Regions from separate parts of the Homo sapiens genome. Here region 2 is linked to region 1. Evidence: fine-mapped expression QTL. Tissue or cell type: blood mononuclear cells. Region 1 holds a variant in brackets; the other region holds the start of a gene. All regions are shown on one strand. Distances are between the middles of the regions. Region 1 has its middle 32 kb from the start of RHOU. Region 2 holds the start of RHOU (ras homolog family member U).

Region 1 (15,524 bases):
ATGTCTTTTCTTTTTTTCTCTCTCTCGGATAGGTAGGTAGGTCTTTCCTTTGTTAACAGTACAGTTGACCCTTGAACCATGCTGGGATTAGAGGCACTGCTTCCCCCGCAATAGTCACGTATAACTACTGACCCCTCAAAAAAGCTACTAATAGCCTACAGTTGACCAGAAGCCTTGCTGATAACATAAACAGTTGATTAACATATATTTGGTATGCTGTATATATCAGATATTATATTCTTATAATAAAATAAGCTAGAGAAAAGAAAATGTCATTGAGAAAATCATAAGGAAGAGAAAATATATTTACTATTCATTAAATGGAAGTGGATCACCATAAAGGTCTTCATCCTCATTGTCTTCATAATGAGTAGGATGAAGGGAGGAAGAAGAGAAGGGATTGTTCTTGCTGTCTCAGGGATGGCAAAGGTGAAGGAAGATTCAAGTATAAGTGAATCCTCGAAATTGAAAACTGTGTTGTTCCAAGGCCAACTGTAATCCAATCCAATTGTCTTTATTTCCTTCCCAGAAGTGCTGGGCACCATCACCAAGTGAACCTGTATTTGAGAGTGATATACATTGGGGAAACTTCCTCACTGTGGAGTTCTCTAGGGAGTGGGCAAAGAGATGGAGTTAGGGGTGTAAAAGGTTTATAGAGGGGTGTGATGTCTGGGGAAGATAAAGGGAAGGAAGTAGGCTGGACAGGGCAACCTCTGGTGGTAACGCATGTGGGAGTCTCTTATCAATCCAAGGAGAAGTCCAGAGCCAGGCTGCCTTTCAGAGAAGTCCCACATTGGGCAGGGGTAACCAAGCCCTAGTACTTTGCACTGCTAGGTGACTGGCTGGGGGCTACCTGGCTGGGAAGAGCATGGCCTCAGCTCACATGGCTGCCTGGCAGCCATCTTCTCCTCCCACCTGGGCTGCAAGCTCTTCCCTAGAGGGAGATGGGGCTGCCATCCCAACTGAGTGAGTTCACAGCTCAGCGGTGACAACCATGATTGGGTATTAGCCTCCAGTATGTGCTTGACAGTGTTTAAAATAATTTTATTTAAGCCTTAAGGCTACTCTAAGTTAATTTTTTTTTCTACATTTGAAAATCGAGAAAACTCAAGAGGTTAAGTTACTTGTCCAAGTTCAACTAATGGCTAGAAAAATGGCAGAGCCAGGGGATTTGAATGGATGAAATGGATGAAATGAAATGATTGTCAATGGAGATTAGAAACTTGTCTTATATTCTTTAAAAAATAGAGGGCATGGGCCTGGCACGGTGGCTCACTGCTGTAATCCCAGCACTTTGGGAGGCTGAGGCGGGTGGATCACCTGAGGTCAGGAGTTCGAGATCAGCCTGACTAACATGGAGACACCCCGTCTCTACTAAAAATACAAAATTCACCAGGCATGGTGGTGCATGCCTGTAATCCCAGCTACTCGGGAGGCTGAGGCAGGAGAATCACTTGAACCTGGGAGGTAGAGGTTGCAGTGAGCCGAGATCGCGCCATTGCACTCTAGCCTGGGAAACAAGAGCGAAACTCCGTTTAAAAAAAAAAAAAAAAAGGCATAGAGGGTGTGCATTCAGCTTATCCAAAGAACGTAGGGATTTTCGCTCTGGTCACAGTGTTTGTGGGTAGGGCAGGGGGAGGGAGGGGAGACGGACTTTTGGACTAATCACATTATTATGTGACAGAGGTCATAACAATGTCTGGTTGTAGAAGGACCAGTTATCTTCATGGCCACTGCAGTCAGAATATTGGCCTCAACAATCCAACTCCTATTAACATTCAGAAAGTAAACACAGAGGAAGAGTCTGAACTGAGAGGGTCGGGGAGGAGGGAGTAAGGGATTACCCTTAAAAAAAAAAGGATGGGCTACATTTTGCAATAAGATTGGTAAAATTATTCCTGCAGAGTTAACAGTGATAAGAATTAGAGCCCACAACTTCAAAAACAGCTTTGAGTGGCAGAAAGTATCTTCCCCAGATGCCTTATTGAATTTGAATTTGCTAACCAGCTCAATCGCCTTTATGCAGTCAGTTAGGGCAGATTTCTATGGCTAATGAAGATGAAAACAGTGAGTTCCCGTATGTCAGCCAGGAACTGTCCCACTGGATTTGTGGGGCGCACGGCAGCATCTACCTCCATTCTCCTCCAGGTGGACAGACCCATTCTCCCTCAAAGGCACTTAGGCTTATACTTGGATTTTAGAAAGCAATAACAATTTATAGTTAGCTTTGAATTTGATAAGATTCTAGGTAGTGTCTTCAGAATTCCATGTCATTAACCTGGCCAAGGCCTTTCAGATTTCAACAGTCCTTATCGGACCCGAAACTGGAAGACTGGCCCTTTTTTCATACATTTACAAAGCAAACAGAGCCCATTTTTTTGAAAAGAGATGGGAGAGGAAGCTTCTCTCTCAGGACATCGAAGATGGAATTCTGATAGATCCTCAGAGAGCAAAAGGTGACCATTAAATCTGAATCACGCCACTGGTTTTCATACAGTATATCCTGCTATTACTACACATCCAATATTGAGAACCAGGATATCTATGGTATTGTGATCATTTCCCCTCACTTGAGCCTTGGCATAGGTATCCTAGTGTTGTAGATCTATGCCAAGGCTCAAGTAAGGGGAAATGATCACTTACTTCCCAGGGGCAGTATTTACTTAAACATCCCTCCAAGAAGAGCTAAGTTGTTGAATTTGTACTCAAGACCCAGGGCTGCTCTAGGAAAGGGTGAGAACGTGGCATGGGATGAGCTGAGAGGTGCTGAATCCTGAACTTAAGGGTGATTCCAGAGGTGCCCTCCAATCTAGGGTTGCCATGCAATATTTGGGATATAGGTATACTAAAAAAATTATCAGTTGTCTCTCTGAAATTCAAAGTTTTTTTACTTTGTATTTTATCTTTGTATTACCTGTCTTTATTTATATTTTAAAATTCTGTTTTCTATCTGGCATCCCTATTTTAATCACAATCTCCAAAACTAAAGAACAGAGCCAAAGTGTCAGTTCATGTAAGCTAGACAGAAAGGTAGATTCTAGTAACCAGGCAAGGGGATCAATTAGAGAGAACCAACAATGACAGATTAAAACAAGATATTTTGAGTTGTTGGAAGCAATAGAAGTTATTGACTGACTGAAACATGCAGTGTGCTATATAATAGCGTTTGGTGAAGGCAGGACAGTTAATAGAAATGAGTGTCTAAGAGACAGGTACTGCTATTACTCCTATTTTTGCTGAAGAAATGGAGGCATGCAGAGTATAGGTAACCTACTCCAGGGAGCACAAGCAGTAGAATCAGAACTAGAACTGGAATTGGCCTCCCGTGGCCAAGTCTTGCAAACTTGATACTCTATTTAGGAGGGCTTTGCTCTTTTATTTGCTTACACAAATTTTAGGTGCTTAACAACATCAGAAACTCCCTTCTGAAGACAGTTTTCTGTGTGCAGCTTAAGGACAGGTTGATGGAAAGAAAAATCAGAGTTATCAGATTCTCCTTTAATATTAGCTGATTAATAAAGACATTGTTTAGAAGAGTAAGTTTTAGATAATAGTAATATGTGGTTGTTTTAAAAAGCCACAGTTCATTTGTATTCTGTTGTCAGTTACAATGCCTTCTATTTCAGGAACAACTGACTTCTGATCTGTTCGCGGATTCAGTAAGACCCTTGTTGAGAATGTCATGGGTGTCAAGCCCTGCACTAGACACTAGATACGGTCATGAAAAGATGCAGAGTGCACAGTGCCCGCTCTCTGAGAAACTATGCTTCTCTCGTTGCATTTTGTGCAGACCTGGATTTTCTCTTTGCCCCTCCAGACCCCTACTGACCCTGCTGTGTGGCCTGGAAGACTAACTTCTTCCCCCTTCATCTTTTAGATTTCTGCTTTTCACAAGGTTTGGTCTGCAGCAGGAACTGGGGAGATGGAAAAGGTGGAGAGAGGTTGGGGGTTTCTTGCCTGCTCCTTCCCTAAGAGAAATCTGTTTCTCTTCTAGAGTCTCAGATCCTGCAAGCAGCCCCTCTTCACAGCCAGATCTCTGAGTTCTCATATTTGTCCCCTGCCTGCCACTTCCCAACAGGCTGACGGGTGATAAAGGCCTCCCTTGTTGCTGATTCCTGGGGCTTTACCATAGCTTGTCAGTCTCCTCAATCCTGTGCTGGTTTCTCTAGATAGTCTGTCAATTTAAGTCCGTTCAGTGACCCCTTTGAGTGCGTCATCTCTTTCCAGCTGGGATGCTGACTGATAGAAGCATTGTAATCCCTCCAAAGTTACTGCTTTGCAGATGGTCTATAAATTCTGATGAAAAAAGAAATTCAAACCAAAGACAAAAAACTGAAGCAATGAAATACACTTGGGAGAAAGTAAAACTATAATGACATGCATGCTGACTGTACCCCAAGGAGAAAACAGGCCAGCACTGCCAGTACAGTTGACCCCTAAACAATGTGGGGTTTGGAGACCAACACCCCCACGCAGTGGAAAATCCATGTATGACTGCCCCAAAACTTAACTACTAATAGCCTACTGTTGACCAGAAGCCTTACCAATTAACATATATTTTGTATGTTATATGTATTATATATGGTATTCTTACAATAAAGTAAGCCAGAGAAAAGAAAATATTATTAAGAAAATCAAAAGGAAGAGAAAATATATTTATTATTTATTAAGTGGAAGTGGATCATCATAAAGGTCTTCCTTTTCTTCGCCTTGATGTTGAGTAGGCTGAGGAGGAGGAGGAAGAAGAGGGATTGGTCTTGATGTCTCAGGGGTGGCAGAAGCAGAAGAGGTGATGGAGGTGGAAGGGGAGGCAGGAGAGGCCAGTGCAGTCTGTGTAATTCGTATAGAAAAAAATCTGTGTGTAAGTGGACCTATGCAGTTCAAACCCCTGTTGTTCAAAGATCAGCTGTATAGCGTATTCCCATTCCGCCTACCAGAGTCCATCCCAAAAGAACTTCTTGTGTATGAATTATCAATGCATCATGTACTTGTGTAACCATGCAAACAGCATCCACTGCTAAACTACACAGTACACATTTCTATACATATATTTTATATAAACATATACTCTATATACATTTCACATAATTAAGAGTTAGAAGAATTGATTAGGTTTAGTAAAGAGGAAAGGCACCACCCAGGGCAAATGACTGCTGCATTTGGTCAGAGATTTCTCAGAGGACCAAACACACTTCGAGCTGTCGAAAGAGATATAAAGAATAAAGAAGGATGTTATGGGAAGAAGCTTTTGTTTCTGTGTAAGGAAAAACTTTATAACAGTGTGAGGTCCCAAAATAATTTTGTGGATTAACTATATGTTGTTTGCTCATAAGAATCACTTGACTTTGGCTTTTGGTTATATAACCTATTTGGTTCTTTAAAGAAAATTTTATGAGCTTAATTATGTGGCAAAAACAGCTTAAAAAAAAAGATTTTCTGGGCAATCCCTAATAGCCCTCTTAATATAAGGCATGCCCGTTTTAGCCCCCTCATCTGCTGAAGGCTGGATTTAAAGGAGCCTTTTCTTTCTATCTCTCTCTCTCTCTTTTTTTTTTTTTTGAAACACTATCTTGCTTAGTCAACCAGGCTGGAGTGCAGTGGCACCATCATAGTTCAGTGCAGCCTTGACTTCTCGGGCTCAAGTGATCCTCCCACCTCAGTCTCCAGAGTAGCTGCCACTACAGGAGCCACCATGACCTGCTAATTTTTTGATTTTTTTGTAGAGACAGTATCCTGCTGTGTTGCCTAGGCTGGTCTCTAACTCCTGAGCTCATGATCTTCCTGCCTTAGCCTCCCAAAGTGCTGGGATTACAGATGTGAGCCACTACACCCAGCCTTATAGAGCCTTAATGGAAAATGACATCTTGCCAGAAAAATGTAGGCATTAGTAGTCTTTTGCAACTGATAAGTGTGTCCTATTAAACAAAAACATAGTTCATAATGTATTAATATATAAGTAAATCTGCCAGAACACCGGCTCATAGTGCTATGTAAGTGCCTACTAGTATTTTTATTGTTGTTGTTACTTTGCTTTGACAACATCTCATCACATTACAGTTTTAGTTCCAGTGGGTCCTGTGTCACTCTTCCAGAGTGCAAGGTGCTCCGCCTGGGGCCTCTTCACTTTCAGGGACAGTTTGTCTCAACTCTCACCACCCCCACCCCATGGGAAGTCACACCTGGTCTCTACT[T/C]CTACAGAGAGGAGCAGAGTCTTCAGGGCGTGGCTGGCCCAGCTTCCTGGTTTCTGCCCCTCAGTGAGGCCTTGTTTCCTCTCCTGCAGCGCCCAGCTTGGGTTCCACCTCGAAGGCTACAGCAAGGCACCGACAGCCACAAGCGGTCACACGCAGACCTTCTACAGAACCTCACTCCAAGACAGGAGATAGAGATGAGGCTGGGGGAAAATTACCATTAGTCTCCAAAGTAAAAGGAAAGTGGGACTTTCTGTCTGCCAATTATGGTAGATCATTCACGTGACCCAACAGCCAGTTACAAATACTGTCACCAGTAACCTTAAACTAGAACGGACCATTAACACTACTCATTAGTTGTTTAAACTTTATGTAATAATTAAGTTGAATGCTTCTAATTTTGCAGTTTTTATTTTCTCAAAATATTTTCAAGTCTTTGTAAGATTCTCCTTGCTTATCACCTTCACATAGTATGAGGCTTATTTTTATTTTTGGTTCACATCAAAATGCAACTAATATTAATTTGTTATTGCAGTTATAATTTTTATATACACAACTTATTGCAGTGGGAAAGACCTGAGAGATTCCTAAATAGAAGGAAACTCAGAAGTCATTTTCCCAAAAAAATTGTAGAAACATTGCCTTTTCAAAGATATTAATTTATATTTTTATCAGTTTAAAAAGCAAATTACGGGTGGTTCATGCCTGTAATCTTAGCATTTTGGGAGGCTGAGGCAGGAGGATCAGTTGAGCCCAGGAGTTCAAGTCCAGCCTGGGGAACATAGCAAGACCCTGTTTCTATAAAAAATTAAAAAAAAAAAAAAACTATCTGGGCATGGTGGCACACACCTGTAGTCCCAGCTATTTTGGGAGACTGAGGCAGAAGGATCACTTGAGTCCAGGAGGTCAAGGCTGCAGTGAGCCATGCACTCTAGCCTGGGCAACAGAGTGAGACTCTGTTTCTAAAAAAAAGAAAAAGAATTGCAAAATGCCATCTAACTGATCACTTTCGAGCTGCTGACTTTAACAAAGAAACTTGTCCCTTGTTTAAGTCTGATGAAAAAGTTAATCCATCAGCAAAAAACCCTTCAGGAGTAAAAATATAATATCAATTTATTTGGGTTCAATTCAACCAATATTTGTTTATCATTTATTATGTACCAGGTACATTTCAAGGCACTGTAAATTTGGAGATGACTAAGGTGGCCCTGACCTCAGAAGCTCACAATTTCTCCCTGTGACAGGAAGCTAGACGAGGCACTCTAGTACAATGCTTGGATCTGCACTGGAACCTGGGGCATGGGGCCCTGAGAGAGTGCCACAGAGGCTGTTGGCTTCTTCTGAAGGGAGCTTGGGCTTATTCGGTCCCATGTCTGTCCCCTGTGAGAGACTAGATACTGCTTGAGGACGAGGGCCAAGTCTTTACTGCTCTTTATTCCTGCTGAAAGTTCAGGGATCAATTTATCTTTTTTATATAAAAGAAAGAGAAAAAGGGGGAGAGAGAGAGAAGGAGAAAGAGAAGAAGGATAAGGAGGAGAAGGAGAAAAGGAAGGAAGGAAGATGTTTTGGGCTGAATTGTGCACCCTCAAAATTCATACATTGAAGTCCTAACCACCAGTACCTCAGAGTATGACTCTATTTGGAAACAGGATTTTTAAAGAGGTAATTAAGGTAAAATGAGGTCATATGGGTAGCTCCTGATCTAGTAGGACTGGTAAGAAGGGGAGATTAGGACACAGACACACATGGAGGGAAGACCATGTAAGGACACAGGAGAAGGTGACCATCTGCAAACCAAGGAGGGAGGTCTCAGAAAAAAACCAAACCTGCCAACGCCTTGATCTCACACTTCTAGCCTCGAGGACTGTGAGGAATACATTTTTGTTGTTTAAGCCACCAAGTCAGTGGTGTTTATTATGGCAGCCCTGTCAAACTAATACAGAAAGAAGGAACATAAGAGGTCTTTCTTGAGTCAAACATTAAAGAATGAATGTGATTTTTTCTAAATTGAAAAAGGAAGAAGGAATGATTAATTTTGCCTGGAATAGGACAAGTCAGTAAAGATTTCATAGAGGAGATGACATTTGAGCCGGATCTTGAAGAGGTGCCAGAACTTGCCACTTGGAGAAGGAGACAAGAGGTTAAGGCAGAACAGGAAGAGTAACTCTATTACAAAGAATCGCAAGTACGTGGAAAACAGATCTAACAGGGATATCTGACGTGTGGAATTGAGGTGAAAGACTCATGGGAAATAAGACTGGACAGATAGATGAGGAAGGACCAGACTATGGAAGACCAGTGGTAGAACAAGAAGGTAGTTTACATAGAAAAAAGAACTGATCTGGTCTTCAGTTTAGAAACAGATACCTGGAGGAGAAGAGAAGGGTGAAGAGAGAGCAGGAGATTAGTCAGGATCTGTCACCGTGGTGTAGACAGAAGGGGAGGAGGCTCTGAGCTCGAGAGAGGGGGGCATGGGAATGAAAAGGTGAGTGCCAATGTCACATTGTGGGTGGAATCTCTAGAAATGATTGACCACAGCAGAAGCTGTGCTCAACAATCACACTAAGATTTTAAGCCAGGAAAGGGAAGATAACTGCACCAGGGGCAGAAATACAAAGTCAGGAGGAGGCACTGGCTATGATTGAGGGGAGATGATTTTATTTTAGATTTGAAGTGTGATAAAACTAATGTGTGTTGCAGTGATTAGGAGAGATCTGGAAGGAGAAGCTGCACTCTGGAAGAGGGTTTAGTGCCATCTGGACCCCAGTCTGTGGAGGCCACGTCATATCAGAGCAGACCTCCCACGTATGGCTGTGTTCCAGCGTTAGTCGTAAACCATTAATAGACACACTGTCCCTTTCATGGCCCCCACCCTCCTGACTACTGCCCTTGAGAATATAACCTTGCTTTACCCTTCCTTGGAGAAGGTAAGTTATGGTGCCATAAAAAATATCCCAAAGTCTCAATGGCTCAAACAGTAAAGATTTATTTCTTGTTCACATTATACATCACGGTGTCATTGTCCTCCCTCTGGATCCAGGCCACGGAGCTGCTGTTCATAGTCATCATGGCATCAGGAAGAGAGAGCTTGGCAAAGCCTTCGTGTGCACTTAAAACTTTCATCCCAGAGAGGCCCAAGCGCCGAGAGACACACCTCCTGTGTGGAAGGATTCCAGATGACAGATACAAAGGCAGCATGGGTTAACTGTCCAGCCCTCAGAATGCGCTGTGCCCTACTGTACTCCCCTCATAAAGCGGGGGGCCTTCGCAATGGGGAAGCCAGGCAAACACCACGTCGGCCCAGTGACCAAGGTCTACACGCATCTGTGATGAGACATATTGGTAGCAGGATCTTAATGGGATGTGATGAGAAGGGCGTCTCTCCTCTGTGGTCTTCCCACCCCAACCCCATACCCTCAGTCTGATAATCATGGTGAAAACATCAGACAAACGCAAATTGAAGTATATTCTACAAAATACCTGCCCTGGATTCCTCAAAACTGTCAAAGTCATCGAAAATGAGGAAAGTCTGAGAAACTGCCACAGCCCAGAGGAGGCTAAAAAAAAAGATGACAAACAAATGCAATGTGATGTCCTGGATGGGACCCCGGACAGAAAACGGACCTTAGGGGAAACCTAGTGAAATCTGAGTAACATGTGCACTTTAGTTAATGCACCAAAGTTGGTTCCTTAACTATGACAAAGGTAGCCAGAAAATGTAAGGTGTTACTAGTAGGAGAAACTGGGGGAGGGGCATGTGGAAACTCCATATGCTATCCTCGCAACTTTTCTTCAAATCAAAGTATTCTTAAGAAAAGTGTTTATATAAATTAAACAAAAAAGAGGTGCATGCCATTTCCACTCACAGAATTAACCCAAGAACTCGGAGCTCCTTGCTCACACCAGATTCTTCCTCTCAAATACTGTCACTCAATATCATGAGATTATGAAAATAAAGGAAGTCTATACCTTGTGGCCAGGAGTGACCAAATACTAAATAAATTTTTCAACTGTAGTTAGACGGAGAAAGGAAATCAAGTGAAATGGTATGCACCAATATTCTGTAAAACAAAGCAAAACAGCAAAGAGAAATAATATTTATTCAGGATTACCACTTCCAATTTCATTGACCTGTGGCCACACCTAACCCATGTGGCAGACGGTGGCAGTGTGCAGTCCCACCGTGTGTCTAGGGGATTTGTGGCTGTGCCTTCTTCCACCCTTTGGACCTGAAGCTTAGTGCCACTTCTCAGACTCCTGTGCCCTCGTGTGACTCGTTGGCTAGGATTTCGATTTTTTTCTTTACTCATCCTGGGTGACTGTCTCCCTTGGTCCAGTCTGATCCCTGGAACACCCTAAAACACAAAGTCCTTTTTTGTGTATCATGCTTCTACACTGCCTGCCTGGCCCCAGGAGCGCCGTGGACAGAGAGAATAACATCTGCGTTACAAAAGGTTATCAGAACGCAGTAGAATTGAGGCTAGTGAGGAGGGTGGAATGGAACAGACCTAGAACCATGCATGATCTGCAGGGGACACAGCAAGGGGCCTGGCTGGCTAGGCTAAAGGGTTTATGTGAGGGTGTACTAAGGAAACTGGAGGGAGATGTGGTGTTGGGTTGCGAAGGGTCCTGTGTGCTTGGCAGAGAAGCTTGCGCTTCTCCGAGTGGAGAGATTCCACTGTGTCAGTGGAAGGGTGCAGGTTGCCTTGTTCTCCACAGAGGAATCTGGTGACAGTGCTCAGGAGGGATGGTGGCAGACATCAGAAATCAAAATCTGAAAGCCAGAACCCATGTTCATTCAAATTACCATGAACATTCTGGAATGGAAAACAATAATAAAAAGAGGTCCAAAGGTGTGAGATGGAAGCTGTCAGTTTTAACTCCAAAATATACTTATCTCTTGTACACTATCTGTGGTTGAGATCCACAAGAAAGGGAGCTCCCAGAGTCATATGTTTAGATGTTTTGTTTACAAATAAACTGTCACAGCATAGAAGTTTTCCTTCTCTCTCATCTGATTTTTTTTTCTTGGAGCAGTTTATAGTCTATATTTCCACTTCTCCTCTCAAAGTAACATACACCTTTGAATGGCTCGCAGGGTCACTTCTGCCTTCAACAAATTAGCAGCTGGGCCAGGAGCCAAGATCATGCAGTTTGGTGTTTCCAAGTGGCCTTGTTGCATCTGCTGGGCTAAATTACCAGTTTGTGGGACCAGCGGGCCCCAGTGTGTGTTGCTATGCCCCTGGGAGAGAGTCTCGTGTTTCTCTAGTGTCAGGTCTGTAGTCAGTATCATTACATTCTCATTTCTTCAAATATTGCCACTGATTGGAATTTGTTTTACAAAAGAGTCACTGAGTTGGAGTCATTGCTACAAGAGTGCATTGACTTCTAGAGCAAATATAATAAAAGGTGAGTAGAAATTAGGTAATGAAGTAACAAATGTTTGGGGAAAGTGCTGGCTGCCGGCGTCCTGCTCCTGGATATCCAACACAGCATCTGTGAATTGCGCTCATCCAAGCTGCCATCAATCTGCCTTCTCTCTGCTGAAAACCTGTCTGCTATTCTCATGAATTGCCAGCTAGGTAATAATTATATCTGTCCTAGGCACTTTACTCCTTTACAGAATTTTTTATAGTGTCCGTGGGATTCCTTTCCTAACACAGAACACGACAAGGTACAACAGTTAGGCACAGTGCATGATGTGAGGGTAAAGAGAAAGGCAGGCCGGGCGCGGTGGCTCATGCCTGTAATCCCAGCACTTTGGGAGGCCAAGATGGGTGGATCACGAGGTCAGGAGATGGAGACCATCCTGGCTAACACAGTGAAACCTCGTCTCTACTACAAATACAAAAAATTAGCAGGGCGTGGTGGCGGGCGCCTGTAGTCCCAGCTACTCAGGAGGCTGAGGCAGAGAATGGCGTGAACCCGGGAGGCGGAGCTTGCAGCGAGCCAAGATTGCGCCACTGCACTCCAGCCTGGGCAACAGAACGAGACTCCGTCTCAAAAAAAAAAAAAAAAAAAGAGAAAGGCAATGTTGGCAGCCTACTGATAAGCTTCCAAATGTCTCATTTCTTTTTGCTGAGGCTTTTGATTTTGCTTTGTTTCAGAAAACATTAGCATGTAAAATTTGATTTGGCTCTCCCGCTCCCTAGATTAGAAGTTAATAAATTTCATTGGTATTTGATCTCGCCACAGGCTATTTCATTAGCTAAAGAAAAGTTTCATTAATTTTAGTGACCTCATAACTATACTGGATGGTAGACTCTGATGTGAGCAGGTAGTTACACTGTTCCTATTCGGTTTAATCTTTATATTTCCCTTGGAGATGGATGGCATGGCCCTGCTAATTTTCGCAGCTATATAAATATAGATTAAAAACAGCATCTAAGATTGGATACTGTTATGGTTCTCCTGTCTGTTCTTAGGGTAATCAGGGATGCTTCTTTGTGGGAGGGACTGCCTGGAGCAAAGGGGCCCTCCCCAGGACTTGTGGGAGGGAAGCAGGCAAGAGACATTCAGACAAAGCCCATTAGGCACCTGGAGAACTTGACAGGCTATGATGATACAGACAAATCATGGTTCCCTTGCCATTTCTTTTGCAGAAAGTAAAGAATTTTAGATCTATTACATGAATATGTTTAAAACACAAACAATTCATTGCTCCTGCTGGTAGCTTTTAAGATAAGTGGAAGAAATTATTATCCTAAATGGCATTTGAACTGTATAGTGAAAGCCCAATTTTATCTATTGTTTTGTATTTAAAACATTCAGAATAATGACAGATATGCACAACAACATGGATGTACCTCACAAACATGAAGTTGAGCAAAAGAATCCAGGCCCAGAAGATTATATGTTATTATTCTATTTATGTAATAGTTATCTAAACAAAACAAAACAAAAACAGACAAAACCAATCTGTGGCATTAGAAGACCAGAGTGGTTATAGTCGGGGGTAGTGATGGGGGGTGGTTATAGTGGTTATAATTGGGAGTAATGATGGGGGTGGTTATAGCGGTTAGAGTTGGGGGTAGTGATGTGGGGGCAGGAAAGGGCCATCTGGGGGTGCTGAAGATGTTCTATTTTTGATACTGAGTTTATTCACTCTGAAATAGGTCATTGCAAGTTGTATACTTTTTTTGTAAATAGTTTGCATTTCATTAAAAATTTAAACAAATAAAAAGAGAATTCACACACACACACACACACACACACACAAGACAGAGAGGGCGAGAGAGAGCAAGAGAGTGAGAAAGCTAGAGAGAGAGAATGTTTACATAAATGATCTCGTTTAATTTCCTGACAACAACCTGTGAAGGAGGCTTGGGGGATGTGAGGGCCCCACCCCCTGAGATGCTGTGGGTCTTGGAGAACTAAGTGCTTTTGACCCACCTGTCTTCTAAAGAGGGTCCAGTGCCCTCCCTTCCCCTCCCCTGCACCTCACTGCCTGCTGGCAGGGCTCACCCATTGTAATGTGTGGGTAAAATCAGGGGAGATGGACAAAGCCAGAGCCCTCTTGATGCTGAGTCTAGTATAGAGGAGAAGCGAAAGGCACACAGAATCCTGTACTCTGATTAGTAAGGAGAAAACCCAGATCAGAGGTCTGTAGTTTTTAAAAGCCAGTTAAACCCGGGAGGGTCCTCATAAACCCTCATGTGCAAAGGGCTTCCAAACACACTTGGTTCATAAATTAACAGCTAAACAGGAACATGGATCCCCACCGATGGCTCCATGTGGGAGTCTGAGACCAGCAAGTACTCAGCGACCACCATGGATGCCTTGTGTATTATTCGTCTCCTATTGAGAGGTGACAGTGTGCTGGCAGTCCTCACAGCCCTCGCTTGCTCTTGGCGCCTCCTCTGCCTGGGCTCCCACTTTGGCGGCACTTGAGGAGCCCTTCAGCCCACCGCTGCACTGTGGGAGCCCCTTTCTGGGCTGGCCAAGGCCAGAGCCGGCTCCCTCAGCTTGCAGGGAGGTGTGGAGGGAAAGGTGCGAGCGGGAACCTGGGCGGCACGCGGCGCTTGCGGGCCAGCTGGAGTTCCGGGTGGGCGTGGGCTTGGCGGGCCCTGCACTGGGAGCAGCCAGCCGGCCCTGCCGGCCCGGGCAATGAGGGACTTAGCACCCGGGCCAGTGGCTGCGGAGGGTGTACTGGGTCCCCCAGCAGTGCCAGCCCGCTGACGCTGCACCCGATTTCTCGCTGGGCCTTAGCTGCCTTCCCACGGGGCAGGCCTCGGGACTGCAGCCCGCCATGTCTGAGCCTTCCCCCGCCTCCGTGGGCTCCTGTGCAGCCCGAGCCTCCCCGATGAGCGGCGCCCCCTGCTCCACGGCGCCCAGTCCCATCGACTACCCAAGGGCTGAGGAGTGCGAGCGCATGGCGTGGGACTGGCAGGCAGCTCCACCTGCAGCCCCGGTGCGGGATCCACTGGGTGAAGCCAGCTGGGCTCCTGAGTCTGGTGGGGACGTGGAGAACCTTTATGTCTAGCTCAGGGATTGTAAATACACCAATCGGCACTCTGTATCTAGCTCAAGGTTTGTAAACACACCAATCAGCACCCTGTGTTTAGCTCAGGGTTTGTGAGTGCACCAATGGACACTCTGTATCTAGCTGCGCTGGTGGGGCCTTGGAGAACCTTTGTGTCCATACTCTGTATCTAACTAATCTAATGGGGACGTGGAGAACCTTTGTATCTAGCTCAGGGATTGTAAATGCACCAATCAGCGCCCTGTCAAAACAGACCACTGGGCTCTGCCAATCAGCAGGATGTGGGTGGGGCCAGATAAGAGAATAAAAGCAGGCTGCAGGCGCCAGCAGTGGCAACCCACTCAGATCGCTTTCCACACTGGGGAAGCTTTGTTCTTTTGCTTTTTGCAGTAAATCTTGCTACTGCTCACTCTTTGGGTCCACACTGCTTTTATGAGCTGTAACACTCACTGTGAAGGTCTGCAGTTTCACTCCTGAGCCAGCGAGACCACGAACCCACCAGGAGGAAGAAACTCCGAACACATCTGAACATCAGAAGGAACAAACTCCAGACACGCCGCCTTTAAGAACTGTAACACTCACGGCGAGGGTCCGCGGCTTCATTCTTGAAGTCAGTGAGACCAAGAACCCACCAATTCCGGACACACTATCACTTCTGTAACAAAATACCACAAATTTCGTGGCTTAAAACAACACAAATGTATTATCTTTTGTGTGTGTGGTTTTTTTTTCTTATTTTAGGGACAGGGTCTTTCTATGTTGCTCAGGCTGGACTTAAACTCCTGGGCTCAAGTGATCCTCCTGCCTGCCTCAGCCCCTCTTCCCTAACGCCTGCCTCAGGAGCTGGGACTACA
Region 2 (15,524 bases), 35 kb before region 1:
AAATTGATCTGCTTCATTTTCTTTCCCAGAACAGAACAAAGTCACTTATTTGTCCTTGACTTCTTTCTTGCCTGGCAGTCTTTCTCTGACATTTATTTATTTTATTTTATTTTTCTGTCAAGACTACAGTAATAGGAACAAAAGGAAAAGAAAATTGGTATTTTTTATTCAACAAAATCCTTCCTGCTGTTCATACTCATCTTCTGAGTTATTTCAGATTAATTAATTTGAAGTTGTCTTCTTGGAATATGTGCAGGAATTCACTCTGCACCCTGGAGTCCCAAAGGGCAGAGTTTCAAAATTTACAGGAACTTGAGCCCAAGAACATTTGGGCTTCCTCTATATTCCTAGGAAGGAATAGCCCAGAGGAATTTTTTACTCAGTGGTTCCCAAAGCTCATTTCCTGCTGTCCTTTAGAGGTACAGAGGTCTGGGATTCAGTTCCAGAACACGGATGGCCGTGTGGATGCTGCAATCCTGGGGGCTGTGGCCCTGAGCTTCTGCAGCCTCTCAAAGGGACTAGTGATGAGCAACCCTGAGCATCTCCCTTGAGCCTCTGTGGCTCACAGAGCCCATTAGAGCAGCAACAAGGGACGCCATCCAAAGGCTGTGAGAGTGCCAAAGAACAGAGCACTTCCCCAGGGGCTGAGCACCGTGGGCAGAACGATGGCAGCATCTTCAGATCTAGACAGGCCTTTCCATGGTCTTTGCCTAATGAAATCCTAAGGATGCTGCCATCCATGACTATAGACAGCCACAACTATAAAATATTTTTAATGCAATTTAAGACTTTCAAATTTTGACCAATTACAAAGCCATCTGAATTAATAAAATTTTAGAATTGGAGAAAACAAATTTTAAACATAAAGTAGTTGATTGTTTAACGAGTCTTGGAGTTAATAAAGGGACTCAATAAATCTTCACAGAATTACTTTAGTGAGTAGATAAAAAAATGATTTCAAATCAGCAGGCACATGCATAAAAATGATCTTTCAATGGAGTATGATAAATGTTCTACTTCTTAATTACTTAAGGTCACCTTTACAATCTTCTTACTATCTTAATAAATATAAATAATAGCTAATAGGAGGAGTTTTAAAAACTTTTAAAAACTTCCAAATTATCATGGGTTTCTTCTCTCTTTTTTTCTCCTTCCTCCTTATGTTTTATTATTTATGCACACTGTTATTTTTCTCCCCTCTCCTAATATACACTGGAAAACCTTGGAGTGTTTCCTTTGTCTTTCACTGCCGGTCCGTACGTACTCATGTGTACTGTGTACCTCAGACTGAATCAGTGATCAAGGGTGCTACTGTTGTTCTGTCCAGTGACCATGCTGCTAAAGCCTATCAGTACAAACTTCTTAAAACAACTTCATTGCTCTGTTGTCTTGTGTAAGTCTAATGGTTTGATGGAAAGGTTATAGGGTATGGTAAAAATCTCTGCTCTAAGGCCGGGCGCAGTGGCTCAAGCCCATAATCCCAGCACTTTGGGAGGCCGAGGCAGGTGGATCATGAGGTCAGGAGTTCGAGACTCAGCCTGATCGACATGGTGAAACCCCGTCCGTACTAAAAATACAAAAATTAGCCAGGCGTGGTGGCACGCGCCTGTAATCGCAGCTACTCAGGAAGCTGAGGCAGGAGAATTGCTTGAACTTGGGAGCCAGAGGTTGCAGTGAGCTGAGATCGTGCCACTGCAATCCAGCCTGGCCAAGACAGTGAGACTCCATCTCAAAAAAAAAAAAAAAAATCTCTGCTCTAGAGATTGAGTCCTGATTCTGTTAGGAAACTCAATTTCTCTGAGCTGCCATCTTCTAATCTATAAAATTGGGGAAATAATAGCACAGGTTTAGATTTTGTGAGGACTAAATATGACAATGCATGTATAATCAATGTGGTTATAATTTGTTGTAGATTTGTGATCACCTGGAAGATGAGGGGGAGGAGGGTCTTTTTGGACCCAAGATTGTGCTAAAGTCTTCTCACCTGGTCAGAGTAGGGTTGATTGCATCCCCATCCAGAAGTCTGTGCTAAGGCATCTTCTGACTTTCTGTTGCACTTTGCACATCCCCTTGCCCTCACCATACACTGTCTTGCATTACAGATATTTTACAGGTATCTTCTTTTTTACAAGAATTGTCAACTCCTTGACACTCTAAGCATGTCTGTGTTGATCACTATTGTTCACACTAAGTTCATGAGTCAGATAGGTCCATTAAATAATGTAGCTAATGACTACACCTCTGCTCTTCTAAAATCAAATTCCTTTAATGATCTCAATCATAGCATAAGTATTTACCTTTCAATACATTCTTCTGGGATGCATATGATAGAGAAAACAGTCCTCTTGATGCAGTAGACACTCATTTCTTCTCTCTCTCTCTCTTTTTTTCTGGGACAGTGTTTCACTCTGTTGCCCAGGCTGAAGTACAGTGGCACGATCTCAGCTCACTGCAACCTCTCTGTCTCCTGGGTTAAGGTAATCCTCCCACCTCAGCCTCCTGAGTAGCTGGGACCACAGGCACATGACCCCATGCCCAGCTAATTTTTGTATTTTTTTGTAGAGACGAGGTTTTACCATGTTGCCCAGGCTCGTTTCTTCTCAGACTGACAAGCAGATTTATATGGCATTTGGAAGTCCATACATTCATTCTGAGTCTTATATTGTTATTGCAAACCCAGCAATGAATTTTGACAACTACTAGAATATGTGAAAATACCTTTCTTCTTCCCATTGTAGGACTGGGGGAGTGCTCATGTGCTCAGCTTGGAAGAGCTAGAAAAGGGAGAGGGCTGCAGTTTCTGGAGGGAAGTAGGATAGTCTCATGATTCTAGAACTGCTGGCCAGGGTGATTATGGTGGTTGAGAAATGATTACATGGCTAGTTCTTATCTTCAGGGTGACTGAAAAATTAGGGGAGATCACAGTTTTGCAATAGCTAAGAGGGGTTTCTAATGAGTTCTTATCATCTCTGAGAATTTGGGCAGCTGGGGAACGTTTGGGAAAGTTTCTGTGATGTGTGTTTGGGGAGGGAAGTTGGAAATGAATCAGTTTCTCTGAAGGTCTGGGAAGGAGGCTTTTCTGTGCAAAGGGAGGGTCAGACAGCTGGGAAGACCAATTGGGATTGCTATAGCAGCTCCAGGTCCCAGGGAATGGAGATGGCCTTTCTCATCAAAGAGGAATGGCAGGGTTGCAACAGCTGAGAAGACCCAGAGAAGGGGATTTAACAGAGGAAAATAAACCAAGACTAATGCAGGAAAGGTGCCACCAGTGTAGCTCAGCCTGCCTAGAACAGCATCTGTTTTCCACGTTAGCAGCGAGTCTAGCCTTTCTCCTCTAGGCAAATCTACCTGCCATCCCTCTAAGGGCTCTCCCTGGTGCTTTCATTTTTCTTCCAGAACTGATGCATATAAATTGCCATTTATCTCTTGTGATAATTCTGCAGAACCAGTTCAGTTAGTTAAAATATTAAAACACTTATAAATAGCCATGGTGGAAGATGATACCCCCATTAAAAATAAATATTAAAGATGTAAATGATGTGCAGTACTTCATGTTCCTGGAAAAGCTTTGTATAAATAGGATTTTGGTACTCAAATCACATTTAAATTTTATTAGAGTGTTATTTAATTCAAAAAGTTTACAATATGTGATTAGCACTGTGCTAAGCTAAAGCAAACAGTTCTTTGGAATGCAAATAACCATGAGTTCTGTTTAATATGATTTATATGTTTGAATTTGTTTAATCTTTAAAATTTAAAAATATAGCATGATTCACAAAAGTGAATGAAACAAATATATAGCCAATAATTACTATACAGTGCACACCTATAAAACCACCACTCAGATCAAGAAATTGCCTGAACATCAGAAGTTTCCCATGACCCCTTTCCTTCCTGAATGTAACAATTGCCCCCAATTACTCTGACATCTAGCACTGATGAGTTTTGTCAATTTCTTTTCTTTTCTTTTTTTTTTTTTGGAGACAGAGTCTCGCTCTGTCGCCCAGGCTGGAGTGCAGTGGCACGATCTTGCCTCACTGCAAACTCTGCCTCCCGGGTTCAAGCGATTCTTCTACCTTAGTCTCCCAAGTAGCTGGGGCTACAGGTATGCACCACCACGCTGGGCTAATTTTTATATTTTCAGTAGAGTCGGAGTTTCACCATATTGGCCAGGCTGTGCTCGAACTCCTGACCTCATGATCCACCTGCCTGGGCCTCTCAAAGTGCTGGGATTACAAGCATGAGCCACCGTGCCTGGCCAAGTTTTGTCCATTTCTAAATTTTATATAAATCAAATAAGATAGTTTATACTCCTTTGTGTCTGATTTCTTTCACCTCTCATTTAGTTGATGAGATTCATTCCTGTATGTTCACTCATTTTCTTGACTGAATAGTAGTATATCATGAATTACCAAATTAACTCATCCATTTTACTGTTTTAGACATTTATATGGTTTTTAGTTTTGAGCTCTTATAAAATTGCCATTATACGCATTTGTTCACCCACAGAAATCCATGTGTTCACTCATAGAAATGCACGGGTACATATACAGACAGGAATGCACATGTTCATGTATAGAAATGCAGGGTATGCACACACAGAAATGAGTGTCACAGGTGGCATAGTTACAAGATGCAAGAAGACTGCATCCCTGAGTCTCCACTTGAAAGGGAGCTGCCTTGGAGAGCTACTAAATCTGCTGTGAATTTTGCATGACCAAAAAATTAACTCCTATGTTTCTAGACATTGAAATTTTGAGTTCACTTATTATTGCAGCATAGTACAGCCTAATCTGACTAGTATAAAACAACATAAACAGTTTCAGAAATAATTTTTACAATCAAAATTAAGGATTGATTTTTACATCTTAAACTTTCATGATACCAATGGAAGAGCTTAATTTATCCATTCTAGTTATCTACAAGGTGATGGCAGGTGATAAAAGGACTTCTGGAGGCAGGGAAACTAGTATCAGCACATCCAACCAACCATGTGGTCTGAGCCCTTACCATGACACTAACTGATGTTTGTGATTCCTGAAAGGAGCCACTGGTGGCCCATTTGGTGGTTTGGTGACATTTATATGATTTCCCCATCTTTTCTAGTGAAACATGGCAAGACATTTTCCTTGTCATTTTTTTTTCCTAGGATGACATCCCCAGTGGTAAACAAGAAACTATTGGTCAGGGCCCAGTCAGGAAATCAGAGCCACTCCAAGGTACAGGGTTAAGGAAGGAGAGCTTTCACAAGTTTGGGAATTGCTGGGGAAGTTCAGAGGGAAACAGTGCCTAACCCTGACCAGCTGAAACCCTTGTGCAGGATACTGGTGGGAACTTGGAGAAAAGCCAATAGTAAGTTATGCAGATATGGCCCTTGGAGGCTGTGGAAGGGAAGCTTGAGGCATGAGGTGTAGGGACTGCAGCCTCTTTGGGGCCCAGGGGCTGGGTGAGGGCTGAAGGCTGCTCTGGGTCAGCAGAGCCAGCAGTGAGATGATATCACTGCAAAGCAGGAGGCTAGTGAGGATGTGCTGGGCACCGCTGTGTCCATCCACTGGCATGTTTGACCATATGACCCTCCTCCACTTCCCTTCAGTCTTCTCAATTCTGAGAATCATGTCTCCGGACAACTTTAGCCGAGAACCATACAAAGAAGGAAATTCTGGGAGCAGACAGCCATGCTGGCAATAGACAACCCAGCTTAGAGTCTCCAGTTCTAGAGAAATATTCTTCTGATGTCCTCTTATAGGGTATTGAAAAAACTAGGGCACTGCTGAAGGAAAGAAATCAGATTAATGTGTCCAAGGCAAAGGGTTACCATTTAAAGAGTGAATGAACACACAGAGTTATATGACCTGCTAAAATGAAAGATCCAAAAAAACCGTGCTGTTCTGATTTGGTACTCAGTAAATGGTGAAATGTTATCAATAGCAGGAAAAACAGCTTTATATTTAATATGATGATGACAATGACACCTGGCAAGGAATATGTTGAGCAGATAAAAATTTATTTATTTCTTAAATATATCAAAAGATACAAAAGTGACATGTACACAGTGGAAAGTCTATTAGGACCTTTTTTTCTTTTTACCATTTTAGTAAAAAACTACAAATTCACTATTAATTATTTGCTAGTGGAACAGTTAAAATAACTTGATGGAAAAAATCCTAGAAAATGTATTAATACTGTGCTAGGGGAAGAGTTTTGTGAACTGGGGATCCTCCCTTTTAGGGGATTATGAGCAAGGGTAGGTGTTGTATAATCAGTAGATGATTTCACTAGATAAGGGCTGTGATAGGGACAAGCACAAATATATCCACATAAGGGGTCAGGGAACATTTCTGGACTTGGATGAAACACCAATTTGTTTGGTGTGGAGGTCTGCTTTCCTACGTTGCCTGTAGAAGATTCTTATGAATAGGGCAAGCGTTAGTTCTGAGCATTTTAGATAAGGCTGTAGGGGACTGATTCAGTTGAGCCCAGAAAGATGGGCCCAAATGAGTGGGTGTGGGACAGTTCAACATAAAAAGGGGTAAAGCAAGAGAGGGAGGCTATGGAACACAAAAACGAACAGATGGCCAGATGGAGAAGCAAAGCCAAGTTTTGTCGGGCCTGAAGCTTATCACATTTTGAGGACTTCATTAAGAAAAAGAACACAAAATTAAGTATAGAAAATTAGGCAGAAAAATAAACATCCTTGGAGGAGGTGACACCTAAGCGGAGAAAGAGCAAGTTCATGGAAGAAGGAGGAAGGGGTTACAGACCTGTAGTTCGAGGAGAAGACACCTTCTCTGACATGTTGTTGGGGACCCAGGGGTGGGTTGCTGGAAGTCCTGGAGGAGGTGTTGGGGGTAGGTAGGGGGGATGAATGCTCACAGCTGGGCTGGAGGGCCTCAGAGAGACAAGATCTTAAGAACGGAAATTCTGCACCCAGTTTTCAGAATTTTCTAGGCCCACTGCACAATGAAGGCGTTGTACTGTCTTGGTGAAAAACAAATGGGAATACATGAGGTGTAATGCATTTTTTGTCTTAAAACTGAGCAAAGACATGGTTTTCTATTAATAGCTGCAAGAAGTGGTCAAATTTCCTTCATTCATTCTAAAAATATTTTATAAAAGCATAAAAATACAACTGTCCATGTTTTGAGAGTCCATGTTTTACATTCTTCTCCTTTTCTTTCTTTCTTTTTTGCAGAACCGTCAAGTTCAAAACATGTTTTCCTTTCACTTACGTATTTACCACTGCTTAAGTATTTATTAAGCACCTACTACTTGCCCCACGTGCTTCTAAGTGTGGGATATAGGAATGAGCAACATTAAGTTTCTGATTTCATGGAGCTTGTAAGAGGAGACAGACAATAAGCAAATAAACAAACAAATATATCATACAACTTGAACCCACACACCTTGGAGGGCTTCTTGTAGCATTAGTTCCAAGCATTTTAGATAAGGCTGTAGGGGACTGATTAAGTCGAGCCCAGAAACATGGACCCAAATGAGTGGGTGCGGGACAGTTCAACGTAAAAAGGGGTAAAGTAAAGGCATTCTGTAAAGGGGTAAAGTGGTAGGCATTCTGTCATCTCTCTGCTTTTGGACTTGGATGAAATACCGAACTGTTTGGCGTGGGGTCTGATTTCCTATGTTGCCTACAGAAGAGTCTCATGAATAGGGCAAACATTAGTTCCCGGCATTTTAGATAAGGATGCAGGGAGCTGACTAAGTTGTGTCCAGAAAAACGGGCCCAAATGAGTGGGCGTGGGATGATATTCAGCATGAGAAGGGGAAAAGCAAGAGGGGGACGCACAGGACACAAAAACTGACAGCTGGCCAGATGGAGGGGCAAAGCCAAGTTTTGTAGGGCCTGAGGCTTATCACATTTGTGAGACTTCATTAAGAAAAAAAAATACAAAATTAAGAATAGAAAATTAGATACAAAAACAAATGTTTAAAGTGAGAAATGCATCACAATAAGTTACAAATTTTAAAAGGCTAACAAACACCATAAACTTAAACAAAATACATAAGACATGACATTTTAATAAACTGCTTGACACACTTCTATGACATTATTTTCATTTTTCAGTTGCATACCCTTTGATCACTTCTTCAGTTTTGTAAGATATTTTCTATAAGAACAATAGGAAGTTACTTCACACACAGGTGAACTTGCTTTTTGTTGTACTACTACAGCCTCATGTCCTTACAAACATGGGAATTCAGATCATTCATTTCATGTGATTTTTCTCCAAAAATGTATGATGCATTTGTAAGTGTATCTGCTGCATTTAGAGTACAGGTACATTTCTGACAGCAGACAACTTCTGTTTTGATCAGGTTTAGTAGAGAGAACCAAACCTTCTCTAACAATGTTGTGTTTTCTTCTGTTTGTTTCTTTTTGAGACAGTGTCTCACTCTCGCCCAGGCTAGAGTATATTGGTTGATCAAGGGCTCACTGGAGCCTCGACTTCCCAGGCTCAAGTGATCCTCCTACCTCAGCCTCTGGAGTATTTGGATTACAGGTGTGAGTCACCACACCTGGCTAATTTTTTTATTTTTGGTAGAGACAGGGTTTCGCCATGTTGGCCAAGCTGGTCTCGAACTCGTGGCCTCAACCGGTCTGACTGCTTCAGCCCCCCAAAGTGTTGGGATTACAGGCGTGAGCCACCGCACCAGCCGATATTAGGTGCTTTATGATGGAAAGAATTGCCAGACTAGCTTCCAGCTCTGCCCATCTCAAGCTCTGCTACTCTTGCTACTGGAACCCTTCTAGTGTTGGGGAAAGTAAGACAGTTAAGGGCACCAATGTGACTCTCACAGAGGGTCATAGGTATGTCAGTGGTAGCCATTCCTATACCTGGATGGCTAGCAACAACATATCTACATAGGAGAACTGTAAACCACATAAATATATCCTGTCATCACAGCCAGGGCGAGGGAGAGGCAAGTCAGGTACCTGAGGCTCAAAACTTAACATTGGCACTTGCCTGACCCTGAGAGTAAGGGCCCTCTAAATTTGTTGTTTTTTGATATTGCCTCTGAATGCTCAATTTGTCATAAATTTTGCATCCTTGACATCCCCCTTATCTCACCTTCATCCTGATTCTGTATCCCATTACACCCAAACAACCTGTTTGGGTCTCCCCAACTTCACTTTCTTTGGCTGATCCCCAAAATCTTCATGGCCTCTTCAAAGTCACTCAATATGAGGGTAAGTTACAGTTTAAAAAGACAGTGAACATAACTGGTGGTGATTAAAATACTTTTTTTTTTTTCAAAATTTACAGAAACATATTACCACGTGTACACATTGCTAGGTCTTCCAATGTGAAAGTGTCCTTTGCAAGTCAGGGGTCCTGGATTCAAGCTTCTAACTTCTTGATAAATCCATCTCTGCATTCTGACCATGGCCATACGTTCAAGATTACGTTTATCATACTGACTTATTTTTGCCTCCAGGATTTTGGTTAGAAGCTCAGGCTCTGGGGCTAGACTATTTGGGTTTGGATCCTGGCATTGCCACTTACTAGCTTGTGGAATCCCAAAACGTTACTTAATATCTCTGTGCCTCAGGTGTTCTCATCTGTAAGTAATGTTAAGATTAAAAGAATTAGTTCTTGAAGAGTGCTTACAACAGTATCTGACACATTATGAAAGTTCAGTATTTGTTATTGTTATTTTTACTACCACTAGTATCAATGTGTATTAATAATATGTGGCCCTTCTCACACCACGCTGTACACCCCCAGGACTCTTGGTATTCTGACTTGGCTAAGAGGCGTCCTTTTTCTGAATAGACTGTTGACCACATGTAGAAGGAAGGCAGAGAGAGAAATGAATCAAAGGGAAACGGAATATTTTTTCAGACATATTAATGTCTCCGAATTACCTTTAAGTAAATGAAGGAATTGGGGGTATAAAAAAATTTCTGGAGCATACATGTATAAAGGTTCACGGCATGCCGAAAGACAAAGTCAAAGGAGCATTCACAATGGAGCTGGCATCCTTTTGCTTCAAAATGAGAAAAAATCACACGATCAGCTGCAGTTAGACTTAAGGAAAAAAGCTGTCTGTTAATTCAATCTCATTCGCAGGACAGGCCTCCAGGACACTTCATTTTTCCCCCTGGGTGGAGCCGTGGCCAGCCGGGGGCTCCACGGAGTGAATAGGAGGCGGCTCAGGCTTCCTGGCTCGCGTGGGCGCCAGAAAGCGGAACCTCCCGGGCCAGTCGCGCGGTGGTCACCCTCTTGGGAGCTGGGGAGGAGGCTGCGGAGGCTGGCCCGGCTCCTTCGGGCGTCGCTTCCCGGACCGGGTGCGCGGGGTCCCCCGGAACGTGTGTTCCAGGTCCTCCCGCGCCAGTGTTCGCAGTCCCCGCCTGGTCGCGGCGGCGCCTCGGGCGCGGGTGCAGGCGCGCGGCGCGCAGGCGGGGGGCGCTGTGGTCTTGGCGCGGGGACCGAGCCGCTCGGCCAGACCCGCCTCTTTTCCCTCCCCGCCAGCCCGCCCGCCTGCCCGCCCCCCACGCGTCGTGTCGCCGGGAAGCCGGGCGGAGACAGAGCGCTTGGGATCCACGGCGCTCGGACCGCTGTCCTCCAACAGCGCAGGGCAGAGCGGCTGGCGCCGCCGGAGCGCGGAGCCACGACCCTCCCTGGCCGCCTTTGTCTACTGGCCGTGCGGCCCGGAACCGCCACTCTCCAGGGCCGGGGACGCGCCCGCAGCTGTCGGTGACAGCTCCTCCCTACCGCAACCCTCCGGGGCGGAGGGGCGGTCGGGCCGGGCCCTGCTAGCCCGCGACCGCAAGCCCGCGCTCGCGGATCGATGCCCCCGCAGCAGGGGGACCCCGCGTTCCCCGACCGCTGCGAGGCGCCTCCGGTGCCGCCGCGTCGGGAGCGCGGTGGACGCGGGGGACGCGGGCCTGGGGAGCCGGGGGGCCGGGGGCGTGCGGGGGGTGCCGAGGGGCGCGGCGTCAAGTGCGTGCTGGTCGGCGACGGCGCGGTGGGCAAGACGAGCCTGGTGGTGAGCTACACCACCAACGGCTACCCCACCGAGTACATCCCTACTGCCTTCGACAACTTCTCCGGTGAGCTGGCCGGGGGGCCGGGGCCGGGGGCGCGTGGCCGCGGTCCACCCAGGGGAAGGAAGGTGGCGCGAGGGTCGCGAGGTTCCCAAGGGGGCTGCAGGGCCCCGGGCGCGGCTCCAGCTGGGAAGCCGGACAAATGAGGAGTGCAGGACGTTTCCTGAGTCTCAGGGACCGGGCAAGCGCGGAGCTAACACGAAAGGACCACGGCGGAGTGGGCTTGGAGAGAGGAGGGCGGAGCGGCAGTCAGAGCCTTGCCAAAAAAAAAAAAAAAAAAAATCTCACAATTTAAGCAACAGATAAGTAGGAGTGAAACAGGTTGAGTTCAGGGTGCCCGGTCAGTTTGTTGCATAGAGCAAAGTTTCCTGAGGGCGACGTCGCTGGCGCCGCTGCAGAGTTTCAATCAGAAGGTGACGCGCAGGTGCCTTTACCTGAGCGTCGCTCCTTTGCTTTTAGGCGGCTCAGCTCACAAGGGGCGTCTCCGCTTTAAAGAGCCGCGGAGACGCCGGGAAAACACTTGATTTAGTGAAAAAGCGCGAGCGGCCCTCGTGAAGGCTTAGGTTTGGATGAAACCTGAAGAGTAAACACCATTTCTTTCTTCTGAGCCCCACCACCTTCCCTGCCCACATGGGCTCGGATTCTGATTGTTGGTATCTTTTCAGGATCCCTTTAAGCTACTTAAAGCTCCTATGTACCGGGTGCGATGCCATTTCCCTTGGTAGATACAAAGAGAAAGGAATTCTCTATCTTGCTATTCAGGTCTTTTTGAAATTTAAGAAAAAGTTAAAATTCACAGAAACTAGTATGAAACACTTAACTGTCTTGCTTCTTTAAAAAAAAATTGCTTCTCTGACCTTCCTTTCATCCCAAAGGTACCTTAGAGAAATGGGTGCTGTACTGGTGGGTTCCCACCGCAGGGTATTGTTTCTTCCCCTCCCCCCACCCCACCCCTGCAGCTGACTAGTATAAATATTTAGAAACAATTAGAAAGTTGTGTAGAAAGAGACAAAACTGACTGCTTAATTAAAATAGAAACCTCCACAACATGTCCTGCTGCAGGCCTCTCCACACTCCCCGAGTCCCCGGATCCCAGTGGAAAGGGGGCCATGGCTTTCTTTTTTCTTTTTTAATCCTCCTTTTGACCTGACATAGAGATAAGGAGTGCCCTCATTTCTTAAACAGGACAATGCGGGCAGCCTGTGTTTGCACATGTTCTCAAAACACACTAGAATTGTATGATAAACCCTGAAGTTGGGGAACCTTTCCCAAGGGAAAACAGAATTATTTGTGAGGTTTTCCACTGATTTAAAACTGCAGGGTTGCTTCCCATTTACCCCCAGTGTTGTTTTTAGGTCCTTTGAAACAAGTGTGACAGGAAAATAAATCTTCCAGGACTGGGAGAAAAGCATAGGCCTTTTTAGGGTCACCATCAAAGCGTTCAGGGATTTGCTGCCTGGTTCACGGTAATGGAGTGACTTGCCAGCCGTGGGTTTGTATACAAAAATGCCTCCACAGGGCCTCCTTGTTTTTGGCTAGTCTTTAATTCATTAGAGGACCTAAAATAGGAGCAAAGGGGTTTGGAGTGAGAATGATAGTGAAAGCTAAAACTATTAGTATTCCGAAAGGGGTTAAAAGACACCTCCTGATTGTCATTTTGGTTTTGTTTTTAAGCGGTGGTGTCTGTGGATGGGCGGCCCGTGAGACTCCAACTCTGTGACACTGCCGGACAGGTCAGTATCACGTTACAGCTCAGTGCTGGGAAAGGAAACAGCCTTTTAAAGATTTCCAAATAACCTTTGATTCCCTCAGTCAGTAACTGGGTCATTCTAAAGCCTCATGAAGTGGACCCACCCCTGCTGTTGGCCCTTCTCTGAGGGTGGGCAGGGGCCAGGTTATTGGCCGGCAGGAAGCAGAGGAAGATACCTCCAAACTAATAAAGCAGGGTTTGGCCCAGCTCTGCGTAACCAGGCAAGGGAGGAAGCAGTGTCAAGAACAGCTCTTGTAGGAGTTTCTATTACTTACTCCCTGGTTTTTATGAAAAAATTTCAGTGATGCTTTGTCATCATTTCCCAAACTAAGTTAGTGATGTCTTATAATCGTTTTATTAAAGGCCAGTGAGTCAGATATTGAAGAAATTTGCTCAAGAAAAAGATGGAATTTACATCAGTAAGGGTTAATATTTCCCTTCCTGAGCTATGGTTTGACTCGCTAGGACCAGCCCCATCACTTGAAGCACAGATACATTTGTCAGAGCAGTCCTAAGCTGGAGGGATGAACTAACTGGGCTTATTCTATCCAAACTGTGAACGCTGGTTCTTGTCTCGAGGGCTGGGCCCTTGGAGGAAATAGCCAGGGAGTGTAGGGTTCCCTCTTTGTGTTCCCCAGAAGAAGCCCCCATTGGTGGGTACTCGAGTCATTGAAGTCAGGCTGTGCCTTGTGAACACCCAGGGGTACTTGATTTTGGCAAAGTGATAGTTAATGAACTTGTCTCTCTAGTATGTTCTAGAGTTCAGCAAAGTTCCGGGGGTACTTTGTAGGCAGGTGAAAGTGCCCCCTTCACTTTCTGAGGTGCCATCACATGACTATCTGTGTTTATGAAGGCACTGGCTTTCCACTGCCCCCCAGAGCCTCATCTACGCCAGAGCTTCCAAGTTGCTCACCTACTCTGGGACAGCAGATTCAGAGCTAAGGACAGATCTTATTTTTTAAACCTGAAGATGACATAAGACCGTGGAGCCTTGATCTCCAAGGAACACCGGGCTGGTGCAGGCCATAGCTTGGGAGCACTTCAGCTTGGAAAAACCAAGCACTGTCCGTATTGTATTGTCTGTAGAAAACAAAAATCAGGCTGGGTGTGGTGGCTCATGCTCTTTGGGAGGCTGAGGTGGGAGGATTGCATGAGGCCAGGAATTTGAGACCAGCCTGGGTAGCATAGCAAGACATCATCTCTACAAAATAAAAAAATTAGCCTGGTGTGGTGGCACTGTCTGTAGTCCCAGCCACCAGCCACTCAGGAGGCTGAGGTGAGAGGATCGCTTGAACCCAGGAGTTTGAGGCTGTAGTGAGCTATGATGGTGCCACTGCACTCCAGCCTGGGCGACAGAGCAAGATCCCATCTCTTGGGGGTAAAAAAAAAGAAAAATCAAAGAATACAGTCACTTCTAGCACTGAATCTTTCTGAATGCAATGGTGATATTTATAATTCAAGCTTCATTTCCTTGTATGAAGTGAGGATGCTTTGTCTACCAGGGGGTCAGGTTTTCTGAGTTTTAAAACATGGCCAGCCAGGCGCGGTTGCTCACGCCTGTAATCCCAGCACTTTGGGAGGCTGAGACGGGTGGATCATGAGGTCAGGAGTTCAAGACCAGCCTGGCCAAGATGGTGAAACCCCGTCTCTACTAAAAATACAAAAATTAGCTGGGTGTGGTGCCGGGCGCCTGTAATAGCAGCTACTCAGGAGCCTGAGGCAGACAGTTGCTTGAACCTGGGAGGCGGAGGTTGCAGTGGGCTGAGATCGCGTCACTGCCCTGCAGCCTGGTTGACAGAGAGAGATTCCATCTCAAAAAAAATAAAACACAGGCAGAGGAACATGTCAGTAAACATAGCCATCGGACCTGCTGAAGTCAGACCCTGAGGATAAGATGGAAGTCAGGAAAATACAGGAAGTCCAAAGGCACAGTTAGCAGGGAGCCTTACGGGCTGGAGCAGAAGCTCAGTGCACCTACCTGCCCCAGGATGTCACTCAAATATCACTGTCCACTGGGCTCCCCGTAAGTGTTGGCTCTTCAAGCAGGATGCAGCTTCTTGAGCTGGGGTTTCATGCCCAGTGCCCAGCATAGTGCCTGGCACATAGCAGGGCTTAATCTCGTGGTTTTAGAATGGATGAACCAGAGAAGGACCAGGTGGTGGGGGTATAAACATAAGTTGTGGGCCTGCCCCTTAATAGACTTACAGTGTGGAGGGAAGACAAATGGAAGCTCGTGAAGGAGCAAGCAAAGGGAAGAAAAGAGGTTCGGGCTTAGAGGTGCAGGCTGGTTGGGCCTGGCAGGAAAACCTCTGAGCAGAGTTTTGAAAGACAAATAGGAATTTTACCAGAAGAACTTTGCATAAATGACTGAATCATCAAGGAAGAGTTAAATTGTTCCTGTTTAAAAATCAGGGAAGCACAAGCATCACTTTAGTAGTATTTTTGCACAAAAAAGTTTATAATTAGGGAAAAACGAAGGTTTTGGTGCTACATTTGTAAGTTTCAGTTTATTTGAAAATTATTCTTCTGGCCTCTTAGCAATATTTTCAATGAGATTTACTGTATTTCTTAACCTTTGTGTACTGGTTAGAAGAGTATACCCAATTAAATAATGAATAAGACCACTATCTAAAAATTTGTAGACTTTTAGAACCAACTTCAAAACTTTTGAAGAAGAACCATCTTCAAAAACTATGAAAAATAAGCTGC

What was found. PIP is the estimated chance that this variant, and not a neighbour inherited with it, causes the effect.
Region 2: it holds the start of RHOU, and the variant in region 1 is fine-mapped to the expression of RHOU in blood mononuclear cells (TOPMed, PIP above 0.99). The same link has a PIP of 0.9 or more in whole blood.

What each region holds. Positions count from the first base shown.
Region 1 is chr1:228,759,534-228,775,057 of GRCh38, forward strand. No RefSeq gene overlaps it. Among named protein-coding and RNA genes, the nearest start is that of RHOU, 32 kb to the left of the region's middle. The variant T/C (reference allele first, on the strand shown) is at 6,192.
Region 2 is chr1:228,724,934-228,740,457 of GRCh38, forward strand. It overlaps RHOU (ras homolog family member U), which reads left to right and starts at 10,546. Exons shown (of 3, transcript NM_021205.6): 1 at 10,546-11,071; 2 at 12,740-12,798. The coding sequence starts at 10,810.